Regions from separate parts of the Homo sapiens genome. Here region 2 is linked to region 1. Evidence: fine-mapped expression QTL. A gene starts in region 1. The other region holds a variant in brackets. All regions are shown on one strand. Distances are from middle to middle.

The links. PIP is the estimated chance that this variant, and not a neighbour inherited with it, causes the effect.
Region 2: its variant is the best candidate, but not a certain one, in a credible set for the expression of ADAM11 in aorta (GTEx, PIP 0.57).

What each region holds. Positions count from the first base shown.
Region 1 is chr17:44,756,652-44,762,020 of GRCh38, forward strand. ADAM11 (ADAM metallopeptidase domain 11) reads left to right here and starts at 2,337. Exons shown (of 27, transcript NM_002390.6): 1 at 2,337-2,609; 2 at 3,071-3,246. The coding sequence starts at 2,549. RefSeq lists an enhancer at 1,978-2,529.
Region 2 is chr17:44,838,491-44,843,859 of GRCh38, forward strand. No RefSeq gene overlaps it. Among named protein-coding and RNA genes, the nearest start is that of HIGD1B, 6.7 kb to the right of the region's middle. The variant C/A (reference allele first, on the strand shown) is at 2,685.

The DNA.
Region 1 (5,369 bases):
GTGCGGTGGCTCACGCCTGTAATCTCAGCACTTTGGGAGGCCGAGGCGGGTGGATCACGAGGCCAGGAGATCGAGACCATGCTGGCTAACATGTGAAACCCCGTCGCTACTAAAAATACAAAAAAAAAAAAAAAATAGCTGGGCGTGGTGGCGAGCACCTGTAGTCCCAACTATTCAGGAGGCTGAGGCAGGAGAATGGCGTGAACCCGGGAGGCGGAGCTTGCAGTGAGCCGAGATCGTGCCACTGCACTCCAGCCTGGGCGACAGAGCCAGACTCTGTCTCAAAAAAAAAAAAAAAAAAAAAGTAAGTTCTAGCCAGATCTGCTGGGAGCCGGGGAACCCAGGAATATAAGTGGCTATGGGGGCCAGGGAGCCATATGACCGAGTCTCCACTGGAACTAGCCCAGGGTGCCACCAGGGAGAGTCACTCTTAGGGCTCATCAGGTCTCCCCAACAGGAAGTCTAGGGTCCCAGGGCCACCGATGTGGTAGGAACATGCCTCTGGTGAAGAGGCCTGGACCACAGATTGGGCTTGCTCTGTGGTCTTGAACATGTTGGAGGACCCAGACTCTCCCAGCCCCGGGCTCGCACTGTGAAATGACAAACCTCACCCAGCCTACTGGGGGGCACTCCTGATCGGGACTTGCTGATGTGGCCCTGGGACATGGGCAGGCTGGAGCAGGACAGCCACCTTCGTGTCTGGGGTGTGTGGTGAGGGTGCATGGGACCAGATATACCAGTCCCCTCTGGTCCCAAATGGAGGGCAGAGATGGAAGTAGGACTAGGGGTGGCTAAGAGGAGTGGGGCCATGGAGTATGGGATGTGCCTTTCACCAGCTGTGTGACTTTGAGAAGCTCACATAACCTCTCAGAGCCTCAGTTTCCCCATCTGTAAAATGGGGAGCACAATCTCTCCCTCTGGGCTCATGATGAGTTTCCAGGAATACCACCTAGTAGGCCCTCATTCCCAGGAGCCTCCTCATGCCTACATCTTGGAGGAGGTTCTCAAGATGTCTCCAGAGCGAAGGAAGAATTGGCTCAGCCTTACTGAGCATCTGGGCCTGGCATGGCAGGTGGTTGGGGGTGGGGGGAGTCACTTGGTTCCCTACATTGATGTCAGCGCCTCCTGGGAAATCGCCTTCTCACCTCTCCTGGGCCTAAAATAGAGCGGGGGGTGGGGGTGTCACAAGCTAGAGGCAGTTCCCTCATCCCCAGCAGAGGCCCTGGGTCCTTGCGGAAGCAGAGGACCCAGGAAGGGGTTTCCTGCCTCCAATCTTGTTCTTCAGCAACCTGTGGTCCCCTAGCATGGGTACCAAAAAGGTCAGGGTGGGGACTCAGCGGCCCACCCACCATGCCCTACCACACCCCACACCATCTCAGGTATCTGGCCTTCAGCACCCCTAGCAGAAGTCTGAGGTCCCAGCCCTGGTATTGGGACCCAACATCCCCAGGAGCTGGGTGGAGGGCACAGCTGGGAATGTAGGTTGGGAGGTCAAGTATTTTGCAGACAGGGCAGCCTAGTCTGACCAGAGAGGGAATGCTGGGGGGCTCCAGAGGTGTCTTCTGCTCCTAAGGATTGGGACTAGCAAGGGAGGGGGAGCCATGGGGCATGCTAGCAGCATATAAGTGACCTGGCTAGTTTATATTTTATCTAGGAGGAAGGACAGGACGCCTGTGAGAGACTCAGGAACCCAGACGGACATGCCAGCCCTTCCTGATGGTTGGAGTGACAGCGATCCCTGAAGCCCTCCTGGAGGCCGGGGCATCTTTGGCGGGGAGAAGGAGCCGATGGGAAGGGGTCTGTACCGCGGGCGTGAGAGGACTCCGCAGTGACACGACCCGTAGCGAAGGTGCAAGAAATCCCAGAGGCGTAGAGCCCGGCGTTCGCCAAGAGCCTTTGCCCACCCCAACCCCAGCTTCCACAGCCTGGGGTCAAGCGGGGCGCTCCAAGCTGGGGCTGGGGCAGCCTCTCTGGGGTACCACGACAGAGGGGCGAACGTGGGCGCCGCAGCCACGCCCCTGCCCCCGGGCCCCAGACAGGCAGTCGCCGGGTCGACCCCGGGGGTACCCCGTCCCCTGCTTCCCTCCCCTACAAATCTACGAGTCCTCGGAGATGCTCAGGCAGAGGTGGCCGAGGAGAGGCCGCGGGATAAGTACGCGGAGCGCCACCGCCCCGCACCTGCCGAGGAGACTTCGAGGTGCGAGGAGGGACCCCGGGGCGGCGCCTCTTTTGTCCTGCCGCGGCGGCGGCCCGGGCCCTGCGGGGCTGGGGGGGCCGGGGGGCGGCGGGAGAGCGGAGGGCGGGCCCTGGGCTCACGTGCTCGCTGCTCAGCTCTTAACCCGGCCCCGCCGCCCCGCCGGGATGGCCGCGGCCGGAGCGCGCTGAGCCCCGGCGCCGTCCCTGCCGCCCCCACCTCTCCGCGACCCCCGCCCGGCCCCGCGCCCCCGCCCCGGCTCCGCAGCTGGCGCCTCCCCACCCCCGTCCCTGCTCCCGCCCTCCCCGCGCCGCTGGCAGCCGCAGCCCCCGGACCGGGAGGAATGAGCGAGCCATGAGGCTGCTGCGGCGCTGGGCGTTCGCGGCTCTGCTGCTGTCGCTGCTCCCCACGCCCGGTGAGTGACCCCCGCCCGGCCCCGGCGCCCCCTCCCTGCCCCCGCCCCGGGATGTGCGGCGCTTGCTGCTGCAGCCACCTTTTCCTGCAGTGCTCGGGGTGACAGCCGGTCCGGAGCGCGGGAGGGTAGGGGAGCGGGAGAGGAGGGAAGGTGCGTCCACCCACCTGTCCCCAGCTGGCCGGGCCCACCGCGTCCCTGCCCCTGCCGCCGACCGGCCAGCTCTGCAGGTCTCTGCGGGTTTGGGCGGATGGGGGGGCAGTCGTGACGGTTGGGCGGGAGTGAAGCTCCTGGCCCCCTCCCCGCGGGCTCTTGCCTCTGCAGGGCAGCCAGATCCTCCCACCCGGATCGCCCTAGGGCTCCAGGGGCCACACCAGAGTGGGGGATGAGGCATGCCCACCCCATTCCCAAGTCTTCTGCCCCAGGGTGGGCAGCTGCCTGCAGCCATGGCCTTGTTTCCCCAGGTCTTGGGACCCAAGGTCCTGCTGGAGCTCTGCGATGGGGGGGCTTACCCCAGCTGGGAGGCCCAGGAGCCCCTGAGGTCACGGAACCCAGCCGTCTGGTTAGGGAGAGCTCCGGGGGAGAGGTCCGAAAGCAGCAGCTGGACACAAGGGTCCGCCAGGAGCCACCAGGGGGCCCGGTGAGTGGGGCTGGGTGGTGAGGCCAGGGGCTGAAGCAGGCCTCAGAGCCCCAGGAAGCCCACGGGGTAACCAGGGTTGGAGTCCCCCTCAGCAGCTGCCCCGCAGGGTCCCCTTCTGTACAGTGGGCTATCCGGTGGGTGCTGGAGCCCACTGGTGGGGAGCACCAGGCCTGCCCAGCCCCAGGGCCCCCTTCCATTATTGTAGGGTCCCCTGCCCTCAGTGTACAGGGACCACTAATGCCTAGGTCTCAGGTCTGCTTTGGGTCAGCCTTCCAATGGCCCCCTGCTCTGCTCTGGCCAAAGCTAGTTGTTCTGTTCAAAACAGGGCTTGGATGGGGCAAGTTGGGGGCAGGGAGAGGCAGCCCAGATTCCAGTCAGGGATTAGGGCTCTCAGGTTCTCACCACAGCCACCTTAGTGGGCTTTCTTGGAACAACTTAGTGCTTGCTCCTGCCTCAGTTTCCACACAGTGCCCAGATAGGCTTGTTGTTCTTCCTGTCCTGGCTGAAGGTGGGGCCTTGGAAAATAACTTGAGGCCCCAAGCCAGCTCTACCTGCCTGCCCACTGTCCCTTTCAGCTGCCAGGCCCCTCCTGCCTCCCAGAGGAAGGTTAGGCATGAAGGAGATTAATTGCAATTAATAATTAATTAATATCATGTGAATAATAATCACCCAGATGGAATATTCATTCAGCACACCCCAGCGCTCCAAGAGCTGGAGCTGAAAGTGAGCCAGGCCAACAGGGCAGCAGAGGGCAGGTTGGCTGGCAAAGGCCCGGCACAAACAGGAGGTATAGGGGGGAGACCCAGAAGAGGGGTACAACTGAGGCCTGGGAAGTTTTGGCAGCGGGGAGTGGTGGGAGGTAAATTGGGCTGGGCAGAGGGAGGAAGGAGGGAAACGGAGGCTAACATTACGGACATCTGTCAGACTGGCATCTGGCCCTGCCTAATGTACTTGGTTAAAAGCCCTTAAGGGAGGGGAGCAGAGGGGGATGCGGGGTGGTGCAGGGGTGGAGAATACTGATGAAATGGATGGAGCAGGAAGGGAGCATGCATAATAGATGGACCATCACTCAGGGCCGTGCAGAGGGGCAGGGGGAGGGGGCTAATGGTCCAAGGCCCGCAGTCACTGGGGGTGGGGTGGGGGGTGGAAGCTGCCTTCAGCAACTGCCCAGGCTCCCTGGGAGGTGTGCAGTCCTAGGGCCGGGGATGGGGTGTCCTGGCCGCTGAGTCTGGCTGTCTTGCCTGGTGTCACTCCCTACCTGTGAACTGTGCACCCCGTGGTTACACTGTGGGGGAACTGATGGTCTGCCCGACTGCTGGGACTCTGGCTTATGCTTTAAGGGATGTGCAGATTGAGTCATGGAGGGATGTCACCGCAGGGAAAGGGGACAGAGTTGAGGAAAAGCCTGGAGTCAGGTAGGGATGAAAAGTCAGGTATTCCAACTGGGCAGGTTGCTCCTTCAGCCTGACCCTTTCCGAACAGAGACAGAGGTGGCAAAGGGTAGGAGGTTCTGGGCTGTGGTGGTGTCTGCAGCTGCGTGGGAAGGTCAGGATGGGTGCAGTTGAACTGCTTGGGTTGGGGGTCTCTGTGTTGTTCTGCAGGTGAGTGAGTGCATGTGAGGTGTGTATGTGATCCACCGATTCCAGATACTTCTGAGGGGTGTCTGAGAGCCTGCGGGGAGGGAATGGAGTTCCATGGATCTGCCGGGCAGTGATTATCTCCAATTTTGGGGTCTCTCTGAGACTGAGACTTCCTAGGGCCCTCATGGCGACCTCCTCAAGGGACTTGTTTGGGGCCCTCTCTTATCTGTGCCTCAGTTTCCCCTGAGGTACCAAAGCTGTGGACTTCTATGGGCCACTCTGCCAAGCTTTGTATGCACTCTACATCACTTATTTCTCACAACTCTGTAAGGCTTGTAACTTTTGTGTGTTTATGTGTGTGTGTGATGGAGTTTTGCTCTTGTTGCCCAGGCTGGAGTGCAATGGCGTGATCTCTGCTCACCCTAACCTCCACCTCCCGGGTTCAAGCAATTCTACTGCCTCAGCCTCCCGAGTAGCTGGGATTACAGACGTGCGCCACCATGCCTGGCTAATTTTTTGTATTTTTAGTAGAGATGGGGTTTC
Region 2 (5,369 bases), 82 kb after region 1:
GCTCATGACTGTAATCCCAGCACTTTGGGAGGCCGAGGTAGGCAGATCACAAGGTCAGGAGATTGAGACCATCCTGGCTAACACGGTGAAACCCTGTCTCTACTAAAAATACAAAAAAAATTAGCCGAGTGTGGTGGCGGACGCCTGTAGTCCCAGCTACTGGGGAGGCTGAGGCAAGAGAATGGCGTGAACCCGGGAGGTGGAGCTTGCAGTGAGCCAGCCTGGGTGGCAGAGCGAGACTCCGTCTCAATAAAAAAAAAACCTTTAAGGTCAGGCACAGTGGCTCATGCCTATAATCCCAGCACTTTGGGAGGCCAAGGCGGGTGTATCACATGAGCTCAGGAGTTCAAGACCAGCCTGGCCAACACAGCAAAACCCTGTCTACTAAAAATACAAAAAAGTTAGTCAGGCATGGTGGTGCATGCCTGTAGTCTCAGCTACTTGGGAGGCTGAGGCAGGAAAATGGCTTGAACCCAGGAGGCAGAGGTTGGTTGCAGCGAGCCGAGATCACACCACTGCACTCTAGCCTGGCAAGAGAGGGAGACTGTCTCAAAAAAAACCTTTAAAATGGTATTAAAACATTTGATTATATATATATATGTGTGTGTGTGTGTGTGTGTATATATATATATATAAAACTATAAATATATAAATGTATTTTTATATATACAAATGTTCATTAGGTATTATTTTCCCATAGATTCATGAATGAATCTGGAAGGGAAAACTCCCCATCTTTTATTGTTGCCTATTTTTTTTTTCTTTTACTTTTTGTTTTCTTTGAGACAGGGTCTCACTCTGTTGCCCAGGCTGGTTGCAGCAGCGTGATCACAGCTCACCACAGCCTCAACTGCCTAGGCTCAAATGATCCTCCCACCTCAGCCTTCCGAGTAGCTGGAACTACAGGCATGCGCCACCATGCCGGGCTAATTTTTTTTATTTTTAGTAGAGACAAGGTATCCCTATGTTGCCCAGGCTGGTCTCGAACTCCTGAGCTCAGTCAATCCTCCTGCCTCCCCCTCCCAAAATGCATTGCGTATTCTTTCTTCCTAGAGATTGGGAACAATACATTCATTTACTTTCCTTTTTTTTTTTTTTTTGAGACGGAGTCTCACTCTCTTGCCCAGGCTGGAGTGCAGTGGCGCGATCTCGGCTCATTGCAAGCTCCGTCTCCCGGGTTCATGCCATTCTCCTGCCTCAGCCTCGGGAGTAGCTGGGACTACAGGTGCCCGCCACCATGCCTGGCTAATTTTTTGTATTTTTAGTAGAGATGGGGTTTCACCGTGTTAGCCAGGATGGTCTCGATCTCCTGACCTCATGATCCGCCCACCTTGGCCTCCCAAATTGCTGGGATTACAGGCGTGAGCCACCGCACCGGGCAATACATCTACTTTCTAATTTGTTACCTTATTACCAAGCCACCAAGCCTGCAGCTCTGTCTCCCTTCTGATAGAGCAACGTTTCTTTTTTTGTTTTGAGACGGAGTTTTGCTCTTGTTGCCCAGGCTGGAGTGCAATAGCGTGATCGCAGCTCACTGCAACCTCCACCTTCTGGGTTTAAGCGATTCTCCTGCCTCAGCCTCCCTAACATCTGGGATTACAGGCACGAGCCACCACGCCCACTAATTTTGTATTTTTAGTAGAGACAGGATTTCGCCATGTTGGCCAGGCTGGTTTCGAACTCCTGACCTCAGGTGATCCACCCGCCTCAGCCTCCCAAAGTGTTGGGATTACAGGCGTGAGCCACCATGTCCGGCCACTTGTAGATACTTTAAAAAACAAGTAGGCTGGCCACGGTGGCTCACGCTTATAATCTCAGCACTTCGGGAGGCCAAAGTGGGAGGATTGCTTAAGCCCAGGAGTTTGAGACCAGCCTGGGCAACTTAGTGAAACCCTGTCTCTACAAAAAATGTAAAAATGAACAGGTTTTGTGGCCTGCACCTGTAGTCCCAACTACTTGGGAGGATCGTTTGAGCACAGGAAGTTGAGGCTGCACTCTAGCCTGGGGCTGTACTCTAGCCTAGGCAACAGAGCAGAGCAAGGCCCTGTCTCAAAAACAAACAAACAAACAAACAAAAAACCCCCAAAAAACCCCAAAACCTAAAATATAACCTAAGGCTCTTGTCTTCTAGTCAAGACTTCTTTCTCTCCTCTACCACCTTGGCAGCTAGTGATTTCCTTTAATCCCATTACTGGTGGGGAAACTGAGGTCAGAATTCCAGGGTAGAGGCTCTTGGGCCCAGGCATTCGCCAGGATATGGAGCAAACCAGGGTGTCTGCTACAACGTGAGCTCCCCGAAGGCAGGGGCACTGTGTCCCAGCTCCTGGAACAGAGGCCAGCAAATTGTAGGTACTTAGGAAGTATATGCTGAGTGAATAAGTGAATGAAGGCTCACCATCCCTAGAAGAAGAAAGACCACTGCTGGAGGGAAGGGGAAAAAAGCTGTAAGTTTCAAACAGGGAAATGGATCTCATTTCCAGCCTTTGGCAGAGAGTGGTACAGCTGGGTGCTATGAGAACCACATCACTTTTAATCCACATGGGGCTCAGGCAGGAAAGGATCAAAACCCAATTTGAGAACTTGAGAGTCGCCCTGGGGCTCTGTGGTTTGGGAACAGTAGGGTCAATCTGAAGGCTGCAATGTGTCACTATTTCCATTACACACTTTCCAGGGTCCCCACTTGG[C/A]TGGTAAACTCAGAGCAGATTCTTCTGTCTTGAAAGATGGAAAGAGGCCCAGAGAGGTAAATTTTTTTTTTTTTTTGAGATGGAGTCTCACTGTGTCACCCAGTCTGGAGTGCAATGGTGGATCTCGGCTCACTGCAACCTCTGCCTCCTGGGTTCAAGCGATTCTCCTGCCTCAGACTCCTGAGTAGCTGGGATTACAGGCGCACACTGCCACGCTTGGCTAATTTTTTGTATTTTTAGTAGAGATGGGGTTTCACTGTTCTCCAGGCTGGTCTCGAACTCCTGAGCTCAGGCAATCCACCCGCCTCAGCTTCCCAAAGTGCTAGGATAACAGGCGCTCATGAGCCACTGAGCCCGGCCCAGAAAAAGTTTTGAGAATGCTGCTTGTTGGGAACAGGGGAGTCCTGCCTGCCCCAGACTGGCTGGATAGTAAGAACTGTTAAAGAAGTTATTGATTAGTCTTGCCAGGCGCGGTGCCTCATGCCTGTAATCCCAGCACTCTGGGAGGCGGAGGTTGGTGGATCACGAGGTCAGGAGTTCGAGACCAGTCTGTCCAATATAGTGAAACCCCATCTCTGCTAAAAATTGAAAAAAATTAGCTGGGTGTGGTGGTATGCACCTGTAATCCCAGCTACTTGGAAGGCTGAAGCAGGAGAATCACGTGAACCCAGGAGGCGGAGGTTGCAGTGAGCTGAGATCACGCCACTGCACTCCCGCCTGGGTGACAGTGTGAGACTCTATCTCAAAAAAAAAAAAAAAAAAAAAAGAGAGAGAAGTTATTGATTACTCCTGCTAATGGGAGAGAGGTATTAGTGGGAAACACCACCCTCCCTCTCCACTAATCCCAGCAGTTTCAGTTAACCTGTGGGACACATTATACTGCTTCTCCCTGCCCCTGCCCACAGGGATGTTGACTGAACCAGATTTTTTTGTTGTCAAAAAAGTTCTTTTGGCCAGGTGTGGTGGCTCATGCCTGTAATCCCAGCACTTTGGGAGGCCAAGCCGGGTGGATCACCTGAGATCAGGAGTTCAAGACCACACTGGCCAACATGGTGACCGTCTCTACCCAAAAAGACAAAAACTAGCTGGGTAGTCCCAGCTACTCGGGAGGCTGAGGCAGGAGAATTGCTTGAAGCCGGGAGGTGGAGGTTGCAGTGAGCACCACTGCACTCCAGCCTGGGCGACAGAGTGAGACTCTGTCTCAGAAAAAAAAAAAAATTAAATTAAAAAATATGTGAAGTCTTCTCAGAAAGATTATTGGATACCAAAGGTACTTTCTGGCTTCAGGCCTGTGGCCCTTGGGGCTGTCCTTGGACAAATGCTAGGAGGTCCTTGGAACTCAATGCCTGTTTATAAAAGGGTGGGGGGTGGGGGGTGGGGGTGTTACAGACAGCCTCCACCAGGAAGCGGCCTCAGCCTAGCCATATTATCTAGAAACTTCCACTGCCTGTTCCTGTTACTCCACTCCTTACCCTTCAAGTGCCCCAGACACAACTATATCCCCTAATGTTTTCTCCCCTCTGATTCTCCCAGCCTTTCAACCCCATTTCTTCCCATTCCAACCCCAACTAGGAGCATCCTCTGTCCCCTAGTCTATTCTCCATCATGCCCTCACTTACAGCTCCCATTAGCTCAAGGCAAAAGCTGCTTGTCCCTCCCCTCCCAGTCACTCGCTCCCTTGGGCTATAAATAGCATAGCTGTGCCTTAGATCGTGTTGAGAGCTTTAAGACTTAGTCCCCCTTCCCCCCATCCCTTCCCCTTTAACACAACAGGGAGAACAAGCCTAAAGCTTCCAGTTAGGGTGGGCAAGCCCAAGAAGGAGGGGGTCCGGGGGAAGGGAATGAGAAAAGCTGTGCTGAATTCGGAACCACACAGAATATGGTAACTTTGCCATCTGTTGTCAGGGACTCTCCGCTTTTCCCCCAGCCTGCTACCCATTCCCTGCCACTTGCTCCTGGAGGAAGAGGAGCAGCAGGAGTTAGCAGAATTCTAACAATTCTCTTTTAACCCTTGCGATCATCCTATGGGCAGGTGCTATCTTGATTTTACCAATGAAGCCAAAGACTCTAAGAGATTAAATGGCATAACCCAATATTTAGAGTGGTTGGTCTGTGGGCTAACTGATCCCACGTCTGACTTTTGCCTATGCTAAGTCTGTCCGCATCATTGATTTAGGCCCCTCTAAATCAGAATTTCTATTGATGTGACCTGATTTGGAAGAAAAAGAGGTCTCCTAAACAAATTACTAATGTAGCAATGCATAAATGGAAAACATTAAAGACTCGGCATGTTCACAAAAATGATGCTATCATAATTTTATCTTATCTGTTTACTAAAGCAGGACTCTACAAAAATCTGTTCCTTGAAGTTTTTTTTAGTTACTGTATGTTCTCAGAAGTTTTTGAAATACAAAGCAATTTTACTTCTTCTATTTCAAGATTTGCCCTCCACTTTACATTCTCTCAAGTTAGTCCTGAGTAGTGAGTTAGAAGTCTGGTCTTTTTTCTGTCACTTACTGTTGGGCAAAACGCTTAATGGAGCCCCAGTTTTTTGCCTGTGAAGTGCGGATAATAATAGCACCTACCTCATTGCTATCGTGAGAATTAATCTACACAAAGGAGGCCGGGCATGGTGGCTCACGCCTATATTCCCAGCACTTTGGGAGGCCGAGGTGGGTGGATCAC